Linked DNA regions of Homo sapiens. The protein of the gene in region 1 purifies or fractionates together with the protein of each later gene. This does not show direct contact. Each region holds a gene or a part of one and is shown on either strand. Other genes may lie near its edges. The genes, in order: PKP4, INAVA and PCDHGB1.

Region 1 (3,650 bases):
TCAGTACAGAAGTGTTTTGCTCTAATGTGCCGAGTTGTTTTTAATTATACGCCATGCTGGGTTTCAGACGGTGGAGAACTGCGTGTGCACCCTGAGGAACCTGTCCTATCGGCTGGAGCTGGAGGTGCCCCAGGCCCGGTTACTGGGACTGAACGAATTGGATGACTTACTAGGAAAAGAGTCTCCCAGCAAAGACTCTGAGCCAAGTTGCTGGGGGAAGAAGAAGAAAAAGAAAAAGAGGACTCCGCAAGAAGATCAAGTTAGCATTTTATTTTATATGAGACTCTCAAGTTTAATTTTTCTGGGAGTGAGGAATCACATATTTGGCAAGAAAATAAATTTTCTGCATAGCTATAGCTGAGTCCCGCAAAGGTGAATGTTTTCAAGTATTGGAGATCATGTTCATTCTGCCTCCATTTAACGTGTGCTGTTTGTCTTTCAGTGGGATGGAGTTGGTCCTATCCCAGGACTGTCGAAGTCCCCCAAAGGGGTTGAGATGCTGTGGCACCCATCGGTGGTAAAACCATATCTGACTCTTCTAGCAGAAAGTTCCAACCCAGCCACCTTGGAAGGCTCTGCAGGGTCTCTCCAGAACCTCTCTGCTGGCAACTGGAAGGTAGGATGACTTCCACTTATCTACACTTCTTTCCATCTTTGCAAACTAACTTGAAATGTTATATATATATGTTCTGCCTCAGTCAGATCAGCCCTGATGGTGAAAGGGTCACAGCTACTTAGCTTGTGTGTGAAGGGGTTAAAGGGAAAAAAGGGAGACAAGCAGTTGCTCTGGGGATACAAAGATAAATACAAGTCCCTCACTATGAGAAACAGAAGGCTAGTGAGAAAAACAGATGGTGCCAGCACAGTGTAGAAGCCACAGGATGTATGTGCTGTGGGGTCCTGAAAGAAGACATCTAACCCAGCCACACAGTGTAAGGGAAGGTCAGGAAAAGAGCGGAGTAAGGACGTGGAGGAGATTTCCTGAAGGGGATGCTGCCCGGCAGAATCTCTGAAGATGAGTGAAAGTAAGCCTGTAGAGGCTGAGGCTGTGGTATGGAAGGAGCCATCCAGATAACAGGGACAACAGGAGGAGGACAGTCTTGTGGTGCAGAGAAGACGTGTGGGCCAGGACTACTGGCTGCCCACTGGGGCCCACCATGGAGCCAGGCATCATGGATAGGCCTGAAGGCCAAACTTCAGGAGCTGAATCCTAACCTACACACAGGAGGGACTACCGAAAGAGTCTGGGCAGATGAGTGACAGAGACGGGCTAATATCATCACTGCTCCCCCACTTCCATGGCAGTGCAAAAGGTGGATTCGAGGAAGGGAGAGTTAGAAGCAGGGATTGGATTTGGGAGCCAGTGCAGCAATACAAAGGTGAGAAATCTTGAGTGGCAGGACAGAACACAGGTTGGGCAGCACTGTGGGGAGGGATAGAGGACCTCTGTTCCTCTCAGACCGTTACAGACATGCCTGTGTCTAAGGTTTCTGCATCTTTTTGCAAATGTATGAGTATGAAAACTGAAGACAGTTTCCTTTTGTTACCACTGTAAGCAAGTTCTCAGAACTTTCTAAATGTCCCCCAGCAACTTCCCAGACAGTCCTTGTCTGAGACATTTTCAACCTCTAGTAATTTCTTGACAGGTGTATTTTAGTAGAGTTACTACAATGCTTGCTGTGGGCTTCTTCCCCCACCTTAACCCCCCAAAATGAGAATCTTTTGGTGATGGTGTTTTCAAGATAGTGAAAAGCATTGATAAGCCTAGGTATGGTTTGTTTCGTGCACGTGGCCACTATGTTGAATATAGAGCGATAACTATGGTCTAGTGCTAAGCCGGTGTGGTTATTTTGTTGTGGCTCCTAGTTAAAGTGCCAGTGACTGAGTGTGTAAGTGCTGGCTCTGAATCCAGGCCACTCTGCTTACCGTCTGGCAGCCTAGGGGCTCTGCCCACAGTTTCCACCTCCCTAAAATAAAGTGAATATTAATACCTGCCTTATAAAGTGGTTATGAGGATTTAGTGAGATACTCCCAGCACATAAGTATTTATAAACATTTATGTTGTAGAACAGCGTTCACCTTCAGCTTCTGTGACCAGAGGATCATTTGATGATAATAAAAGACAGTAATTGAAATCGATGTGATTTGACTTATTTAGAAGTTCATGTCTGGGATCATTTAGTGAGAGAGTTAGATGGCAAAGCTCATTTAAAATATAAACATTATATCTAAGCGATTTCAATAGTGAGTTAAAATATTGGACCTTCACTAAGAAAATGAGATAATCGTGGCCACAGATGTTATCAAGTAAGAAGCTATTTCAGGAGCAGTGATGACTGTAGTTCTCCAGAAGGGAGACGGGCTGGGCTGGGCTGGGCTGGTAGGTCTCCAAGTGAGACAGAAGGAGATGGTTCTGTTGTTGCAGGTTTCAGAGAGAAGTTCATAAAACTGCCTGAGTGCTTTGCCTAGTAACCAGTCATGTACTTCATTTTCCCCCCATAGATTTCATGTGATTTGAAAAATAGGAGTATGCATTTCATATGCAGAATATAAATAGGATCTTTGAAATGCATCTTTCCCTCTTATTTGTATTATTAAAATATTCTGTTGGTATTCAAGAAACTGGATGGTCAATCACATATTTTAATGTTCGAAATAATACAAAGGGCTGGTAGATCTCTGTCCTACTGTCTTGGTCACAGCAGGAAAGTATATGTTTTATGAGCAGCATCTTTCAATTACCCTAAAATTTGAAAGATGATTTGCATTGGTTGAAAAAGTCAATTAAAGCTCAAAGCTGGAAACAAGATTAAAGAACCGTTTTCTAACGTTACTCTTTTTGGTTGTTTCACTGATGACTTAGCGCTCATTTCCATTTTATAAGATATACAAACTGACTCACAGTACAGAGTTGCTTCATAGTCACAGAAAAATTTCTTGACTATGGATTTTTAAAAAACAGCATCAGCAGCTAACTAATCTTGAGTGAGAATGCATTTTGCACACAAATATACTTACTTTTTCACCAGGCTGTATGAATTATGATGCTGGATGTTTCTGGAGATTTCCCTTTCTTCTGAGGCAAGGGATTTTTCCAACTAATCTCTTTGACAGGTTTCTGAACTCGAAATATTGTTGCAGGGAATATAGAAAAAAAATGACTTGATGGAGACAGGTTCTCCTTTCATGTGTGCTGATGGGTTACTGTCTCTGCCATCCTATTTATAGCCTCTGGGTTTGGCAGGGGACCAACTGCAAAGAAAACACACGATCCTTCCTTAATCATGTTTATGTATCTGAGATAGAAAGTAATCACTGCCTTCTCTTTTCTGCACAAAAATATCTGGCAGATGGTGGTTTGAGATTTTCAGGCTTTGGGATTTCTTTTTAAATCAGTCATTCCAGCCTATCTTTCTCCCCAACTTTGGTTTTCTCTTCACTGACACCACAGATTTGATCTTCAATTGGAAAGAAACCATTTAATCTATTAGTTCATCTTTTGGAAACATCTTTTTTAGGTGACAGTAACATATGAGACTGGAACTCTGTTTTATGTTACTTCCTGCCTTATTTTTCTCACTAGTTTGCAGCATATATCCGGGCGGCCGTCCGAAAAGAAAAGGGGCTCCCCATCCTTGTGGAGCTTCTGA
Region 2 (3,650 bases), on another chromosome or scaffold:
GGCTGGTCTTGAACTCCTGGGCTCAAGCTATCCTTCTGCCTTGGTCTCCAGAAATGCTGGGATTACAGGCGTGAGCCACCATGCTGGGCTTCCTTCCTCCTTTCTTTGTTATCCCATCCCATTTTTTGTCCCCTTCCTTTTTATCCTGTCTCTGCTCTTTTCCTTCTTGCCCTTCTCCCCAGTCGAGCGGTTCTTGTGGCTACCACAGCTGTCGACCCCCTTAGGCCTAGAGGACTTTGGCCCAGAGGGGAGTTAGGCTGGGCCCCTGAGAGCCCACTGAGAACAGGGTTTGCTGGTGAGGCCCACAGCCCCTTCTCTAGGTCAGCACCCCCAGTGCCAGAATCTCCTGCCCCAGATGGTTCCTGAAGCACAGTCCTCCCTTCCACTCCCCTGCTCTCAAGCATCTATTCAGCTTTTTGTAACCAAGATGGTTCATATCTAGCTTTTTTGTTATTGTTCTCTTTTCTCTTTAAAGCTGGGGAAGCTCCAGGCTACCTACACAACCTGGCCCAGGCTGGTCACGGTGTCCCCCCTCCCTGCTCTGTGCCCTCTCCTTCCAGAAATCCACCATGGAGAGTAAGGATGAGGTCAGCGACACCGACAGTGGCATCATCCTGCAGTCTGGTGAGTGTTCAGGGAAATCCCCCTGCCCTAGTCCCTAGTCCCTGGTCCCTGGTCCCTGGCCCTGACTCCTGAGTCCTGAGCCCTCAGGCACTAGGGCTGGCTGGGCTGAGACTCCCAAGGGCTGAGAGGAAGGGGAGGGAGAGGCCTCTGCTGGGAGGAGGGGGAGGTTCTGGAAGGGCTGGAGCCTCAGGGACATGTGGAGTTTTCCTCCCTGGAGAAAACTGGCTTGGAGTTTTGGTTCTATCTGGAAGAGGGATCTGCAATGTTCAACTTTAGCCCCAGCTGAGAAGTTGAAAAATCTCAGGCAGGCACAGTGGCTCATGCCTGTAATCCCAGCACTTTGGGAGGCCAAGGTGGGCGGATCACAAGGTCAGGAGATCGAGACCATCCTGGCTACCACATAGTCCCAGCTATGTGGGAGGCTGAGGCAGAAGAATCGTTTGAACCTGGGAGGCGGAGGTTGCAGTGAGCCGAGATCGCGGCATTGCACTCCAGCCTGGGCGACAGGGCAAGACTCCGTCTCAAAAAAAATATATCATCTGGCCAATGTGAAGGTCTTGCCTCTCTGTTTGGCCAGACCTGTGGGCCTAGTCTGGCCTAGTCTTGACAGAGGACAAGAAAGAAGAGGCTTATGTGTGTGTGCAAGAGAGAGGGGTAGTGGGGAGAGGGAGAGAGAGAGACAGGAAGAAGAAGGAGAAGGAAAAGAGGAAGAAGAAGGGAGGAGGAGTGGGGGGAGGACTGCACCGGCAGAACTCCCTCCCCTGCACTCCCCCACCATAGGTCACCTGGTGGGACGACCCTCCCTTCTGAGTTGTAACATTTGTGCAGCCAAGAGACGTGGTGTTTTGTGGCTGTGACACAGGCCACAGCAGCCAGCCTGCAATTTGTGGGCAGGCATGAGATGTGTGTGTGTGTGTGCATGTGTGTGCATGTGCATTCCCCTAGGGGTGGTCAATAAGTAACGGAGGAGGCTTCCATCTTCAGCCTCCCTGAGCATGTGCCCCCCAACCCTTGCAGGCCCCGACAGCCCGGTCTCCCCAATGAAGGAGCTGACCCATGCAGTGCACAAGCAGCAGAGGGCCCTGGAAGCGAGGCTGGAGGCCTGCCTGGAGGAGCTGAGGAGACTCTGCCTTCGGGAAGCGGTGAGGCCCCAGCCAGCACACACAAGCATCGGGTTCATCTCAGGAGCTGTGGAGCCACGTGTGGGGATGCGGGAGCTGGGGAGAGGGAGCCCCATTCTTGAGGGAATTCTGGACATCAGGCTGGGGGCTGGGGCCCAGAGTCCCCATGATGCAGTGTTTGACCTTGTGCTGGATGGAGAAGAGTCAGACCCAGGCAGGGGCCCAGGCACAGAGAACAAAGTTCATCAGGGGCTGCAGAGGGACTGCACAGACATAAGTGCATATGAGTGCTGTAACCCGGGTCGGTGTAGCTCTGGAGGAAGTGATCAGAAAGAGGTCTGAAGGGAAAGGGGAGGAGTGCAGAGTGGGTCTGAAGACAGGAGAGACAGTGTGGAGGATGGGATGAGGTGGGGTGGAGGGTGGTCCCACCAGGGCTTCTATGGAAGGCAGGCACATGCAGTGCAGGGGCCAGTGAGCCAAGTCTGGGCAGGTGGAGAGGACCTGGCTGGTCTCTGCTTCCTCCCCAGGAGCTGACGGGCACCTTGCCAGCGGAGTATCCCCTCAAACCAGGGGAAAAGGCCCCCAAGGTTCGCCGCAGGATCGGAGCGGCTTACAAACTGGATGACTGGGCCTTGCACAGAGAGGTGAGGAACCTCAGGAAGCTGCCAGTACCCCTCGATCCCCAAAGCTGATCACTGAGACGCCACACCTCAGCTCAGTACCCTGGCAGGTTCCCTTCCACCCTTTCACACCCAGTGAGGGTGCTTGGCTGCCTGTTGGTGAGAGACACCATGAATATGTAGCCCAAATGGCTGTGGAGAAGGGGCGCCACTAAGGAACCGAGAGCTGGGAGCTCAAGGGAGGACACTGGGTTTGACCCCATTGGGCAGAAGATCAGTTAAGAGCACCAGCCACCAACCCAGCGGGCAATAGCCTGCTCAGACAGGTTACTCTGGCCCCTAGGGCTGTCCTCCTTTCTCAGGAGGAGGTGGGGGCAGTCAGGCCCTGGGTGCCCTTCCCCTGTGGCGTCAATGGCAGCAGTTTCCCATGGGCCAGCCTGCCCCACCCTTTGGGGTCAGGAGGGAAAGTGTCCCACTTGGGTTCCCACCCTGCCCGGTTCAGCAGGTGGGCTGGTGGGTGGGTGCCCATGCCAGCTTTTCAGGCTGACAAGTTTGCTTTTCGGCTCCTCCCACTCCTTCACCCTCTGCTCCACGTCCGTCCATTGGTGCTGCTGTCTGCCTCTCTTCTGTCCTCAGGGCTTAGGACTGGGACCTAGAGCACTGTGTCAGGGCTGCTGTCCACCCTCTGGGCCCCCAATCTCCCTGCCTCTCTCTAGCCTCACTCCTGCCCCCTCTCTCAGGACCCCCTAAGCAGCCTGGAGCGCCAGCTGGCCCTGCAGCTGCAGATCACAGAGGCAGCCCGTCGGCTGTGCCTGGAGGAGAACCTCAGCAGGCAGGCTCGGCGGCAGCGGAAGCACTCCATGCTGCAGGAGGAGAAGAAGCTGCAGGAGCTCCAGCGCTGCCTGGTCGAGCGGCGGCGCAATAGCGAGCCACCTCCGGCTGCTGCTCTCCCCCTGGGCCGAGGTGAGCCGGCTGCCCTGAGGGGGGCCATGCTCCTTAAATGAGCTTTTGAGGGATGGTGGGCGCACAGCCCCGTGCCACTGCCTTTGCATTTGGCTCCAGCTGGGTAAAGCTGATTCTTGGGTTCAGCTCCACCCCATCCTGATTCTCTCCAACTCCAGCAAGGCTTCCCCATCCTGTGAGGTCTTCTTCTCCGTCTCCTTAGAAAACACCCTACTCTCTCCTTCCGTATCCTCCTCAAAATACACTACCTTCAAGAGACTTCCTACACAGAGATATTTCTCAGCTGACCCTGAGCTGAATCCAAGGTGTATTCAACTGGGTA
Region 3 (3,650 bases), on another chromosome or scaffold:
TGTTCTAGTGATGGTATCTACTGCGGGAGGGGGTACTAGATAGATGGAGATTGCTTTCTTGATTGCTCAGTAGTCTTGGCAATTTAATTTTCAATCTTTACTGTTGGCATTTCTGTATGGTTGGCAAATCTTGCTAAAGAGACCTGTTTCCTAGATGTTAACACTTAGTAATAGCAGTGCCTTTTCTTAGTTGATATGCAATACTATATTTTCAAGTCATTTTATTCTTAGCTCTTTATAAATGTATTTAGAGTTCTTCCCACCCAAGTTAAAGTTCATCAATTACATTAATTATGTAATTGATGTAATTATGTATTAATGTAATTATGTAATTAATGTAATCTTCATCAATTACATTCTAGTTTGTCTTTTTGCAGCAACATGTATGTTTAATACAGCCTTCCAATTATTAAGACTCTTAACACTTTGTCTCATCACAAGTAGCAAATATTGTCCAATTTTATATTTGCATCACTAACTTTGAGTCAATATTATTCCCACTCTATAATTTCAGTCAATGATATTTCATAATTTTCTTAACCATTCCTAAATTATTTGTTTTTATGCTCTTTCTATTTTGTCTCTATTAAAACAAAGAATGTAATGAACATTTGGGTTTATAAAGCGTTTTCCATACTTCTTGTTTCTTTAGTGTAGATTTCTGAGGAATTAGTTAAATCTATAAACATGTTGAGATTTTTTTAATGCATACTGTCAAATTTATTTCCAAACATCTTATTTCACCTCTCAATCATCCGCAGTTTGTGCGGTCTTTGAGGATTGTGAAAAACACGTTTAATCTACTCTCTCAAAGTCTGAGGGTTTTTAAATTCTGTATAGCTAATGCCCTTTTGTATGAGTCATTTCTACTGCTAATTGTTAAGTGAGGAATAAGCTTAAGAACTGATGTACTGCTTTATCTCAAATTTTCACAGATTAGTAAATTACTGTAAGTATTCATAAGAAAGAAAGCGATGGCACATGCAATGATAATCCATGTTCGGCTACCAAAACATTTCCTTTTACTGGCTATTTCTAAAATGAGAGCTAAAGTAAAGTTAGAAATTGTAAAATAATACTGAATGTGTCATGTGAAAAAATCACTAAACTATTATCTGCACTTTATAGTTATTCAGTCTAACTTTTCTTTTTATTTCTTTTTTATTTTTAAGATCAGAGTTATTTACCCATTGTTTTAGGCTTTGCATTTGAACTGGTCATTCATGAAACATTGAAAGGTTTCATAAAAATTACTACTCTATGAAAGGTATTGTTCTAAAGATTGAGAACACATTGTGAACAAGATAGTCATATGCATAGCTTGTGGCCAAGAATCTACTGTACACAAAATTAAGGAGCAAATTCTCTTCCCAAACCTATTATCCTATTTGTCAATCTCATTTGTACAGGGTAAGGCTAACTCTTGAACAGTAGGTGAGTTTTTTGCAAGGGAATTGAAGCATTGCCCCAGGTTCTAGAGGGTCAACTCCTGTGAGGAAACTTGTTACTGCATAAATTGGGACTAAAGCCAGACCTCCAAGTTCCTGTCCCACTGTCTTTTCACTTATCTGTCTCATCCATTTTTCAAGTCCACCTTTGTCTTTAGGAGAGATAATTATGTCCCTCACACAATACGCTATACTGAGAATGGGCTGTGGGGATGAACAATGTGAAAACTGAAAAGAGGAAGAACACATCTTAGGAAAAAAATCGTCATATTTTCTCTAAGAAAATAAATAACTTCATAAAGTTTATTGTACAGGAAGACTTGGATCATTCTTGAATTTTCATTGCAAATCAAAAACAGGAATTTGACTTTATTATCTTGGGAGAAATAGGAATAGAAAAGTGTATAAAAAATAAACTTTTTTTAACCAAGAATAAATTGCAGTAACAGGTTAAGACTCTGGGTGTCGCTGTTCACCAATCAGGGGGAAAAGACAAACCAGAAATTTAATCAGAATCACAAGATTTCTGCAGCACAAAGCACTGGCTCTGGAGCTTTATGAAAGCTTCAAGCGGAAGCCCTGAGAGCTCTGGCTGTGAATGCACTTTATTTTGGACCCAGAAGATCCTGGGGCTCCTCAGGCCTCGACAGAGGGAAAACCGAAGCACAGGCGACTCCGCGGCGGGGTTGTAATGGCGGCGCCTCCTGCTCGCCCAGACCACACCCGGCTGCTCCAGATCTGCCTTCTCCTGGGGGTTCTGGTGGAAATCAGGGCCGAACAGATTCTCTACTCGGTGTTTGAGGAGCAGGAAGAAGGCTCAGTGGTGGGCAACATCGCCAAGGACCTGGGGTTGGCGCCCCGGGAGCTGGCGGAGCGCGGAGTCCGCATCGTCTCCAGAGGTAGGACGCAGCTTTTCGCCCTGAACCCGCGCAGCGGCACCTTGGTCACCGCGGGTAGGATAGACAGGGAGGAGCTCTGCGACAGATCTCCAAACTGTGTGACAAACCTGGAGATTCTTCTAGAAGATACAGTGAAGATTTTGCGGGTAGAGGTGGAAATAATCGATGTTAATGATAACCCACCCAGTTTTGGGACAGAACAGAGGGAAATAAAAGTTGCTGAAAATGAAAATCCTGGGGCAAGATTTCCTCTTCCTGAAGCTTTTGATCCGGATGTAGGTGTAAACTCCCTGCAGGGTTACCAGCTCAACTCAAACGGTTACTTTTCCCTGGACGTGCAAAGTGGGGCCGATGGGATTAAGTACCCAGAGCTGGTGCTGGAACGCGCTCTAGATCGCGAGGAAGAGGCGGTTCACCACCTCGTTCTCACGGCCTTCGATGGAGGTGACCCGGTTCGCTCTGGCACTGCCAGGATTCTCATAATACTTGTGGATACCAACGATAATGCTCCCGTGTTCACTCAGCCCGAGTACCACGTAAGTGTTCGTGAGAACGTTCCTGTAGGCACTCGGCTACTCACCGTAAAAGCCACTGATCCAGATGAAGGAGCCAATGGAGACGTGACGTATTCTTTCCGGAAAGTAAGAGACAAAATATCACAGCTATTTCAGTTGAATTCTCTGAGTGGGGATATAACAATATTGGGGGGTCTAGATTATGAGGACTCTGGATTCTATGACATAGATGTAGAAGCCCATGATGGGCCTGGTCTCCGAGCTAGAAGCAAGGTACTGGTGACAGTTCTGGATGAAAATGACAACGCACCAGAAGTCACAGTTACATCTCTCACCAGCTCAGTCCAGGAATCTTCTTCCCCGGGTACAGTAATTGCACTTTTCAACGTGCATGACAGTGACTCAGGAGGAAATGGCCTAGTCACATGTTCTATTCCAGATAATCTGCCATTCACACTTGAAAAGACCTATGGAAATTATTATCGGTTGTTGACACACAGAACACTGGACAGGGAAGAAGTCTCAGAATATAACATCACTGTAACTGCCACTGACCAGGGAACTCCTCCACTGTCTACAGAAACTCATATTTCACTGCAAGTGATGGACATCAATGACAACCCACCCACTTTCCCTCATGCTTCCTACTCTGCTTACATTCCTGAAAACAACCCCAGAGGAGCCTCCATCTTATCTATGACTGCTCAAGACCCTGACAGTGGTGACAATGCCCGAATCACTTACTCCCTGGCCGAAGACACCTTCCAGGGTGCACCTCTGTCCTCCTA

Evidence for each region.
Region 2: the proteins of PKP4 (region 1) and INAVA purify together in Homo sapiens (co-immunoprecipitation; one large-scale study listed by IntAct). This does not show direct contact.
Region 3: the proteins of PKP4 (region 1) and PCDHGB1 purify together in Homo sapiens (co-immunoprecipitation; one large-scale study listed by IntAct). This does not show direct contact.

What each region holds. Positions count from the first base shown.
Region 1 is NC_000002.12:158,662,830-158,666,479, forward strand, and holds part of PKP4 (plakophilin-4), read left to right. Parts: intron 1-67; coding exon 68-259; intron 260-442; coding exon 443-616; intron 617-3,018; exon of another isoform or gene 3,019-3,252; intron 3,253-3,583; coding exon 3,584-3,650. UniProt on the Homo sapiens protein: Plays a role as a regulator of Rho activity during cytokinesis. May play a role in junctional plaques.
Region 2 is NC_000001.11:200,897,832-200,901,481, forward strand, and holds part of INAVA (innate immunity activator protein), read left to right. Parts: intron 1-475; coding exon of another isoform or gene 476-569; coding exon 570-624; intron 625-1,641; coding exon 1,642-1,766; intron 1,767-2,272; coding exon 2,273-2,389; intron 2,390-3,105; coding exon 3,106-3,328; intron 3,329-3,650. UniProt on the Homo sapiens protein: Expressed in peripheral macrophages and intestinal myeloid-derived cells, is required for optimal PRR (pattern recognition receptor)-induced signaling, cytokine secretion, and bacterial clearance.
Region 3 is NC_000005.10:141,353,062-141,356,711, forward strand, and holds part of PCDHGB1 (protocadherin gamma-B1 isoform 1 precursor), read left to right. Parts: intron 1-1,959; exon of another isoform or gene 1,960-2,046; coding exon of another isoform or gene 2,047-3,650. Other genes in the region: PCDHGA4 (protocadherin gamma-A4 isoform 1 precursor), read left to right, coding at 2,047-3,650. UniProt on the Homo sapiens protein: Potential calcium-dependent cell-adhesion protein. May be involved in the establishment and maintenance of specific neuronal connections in the brain.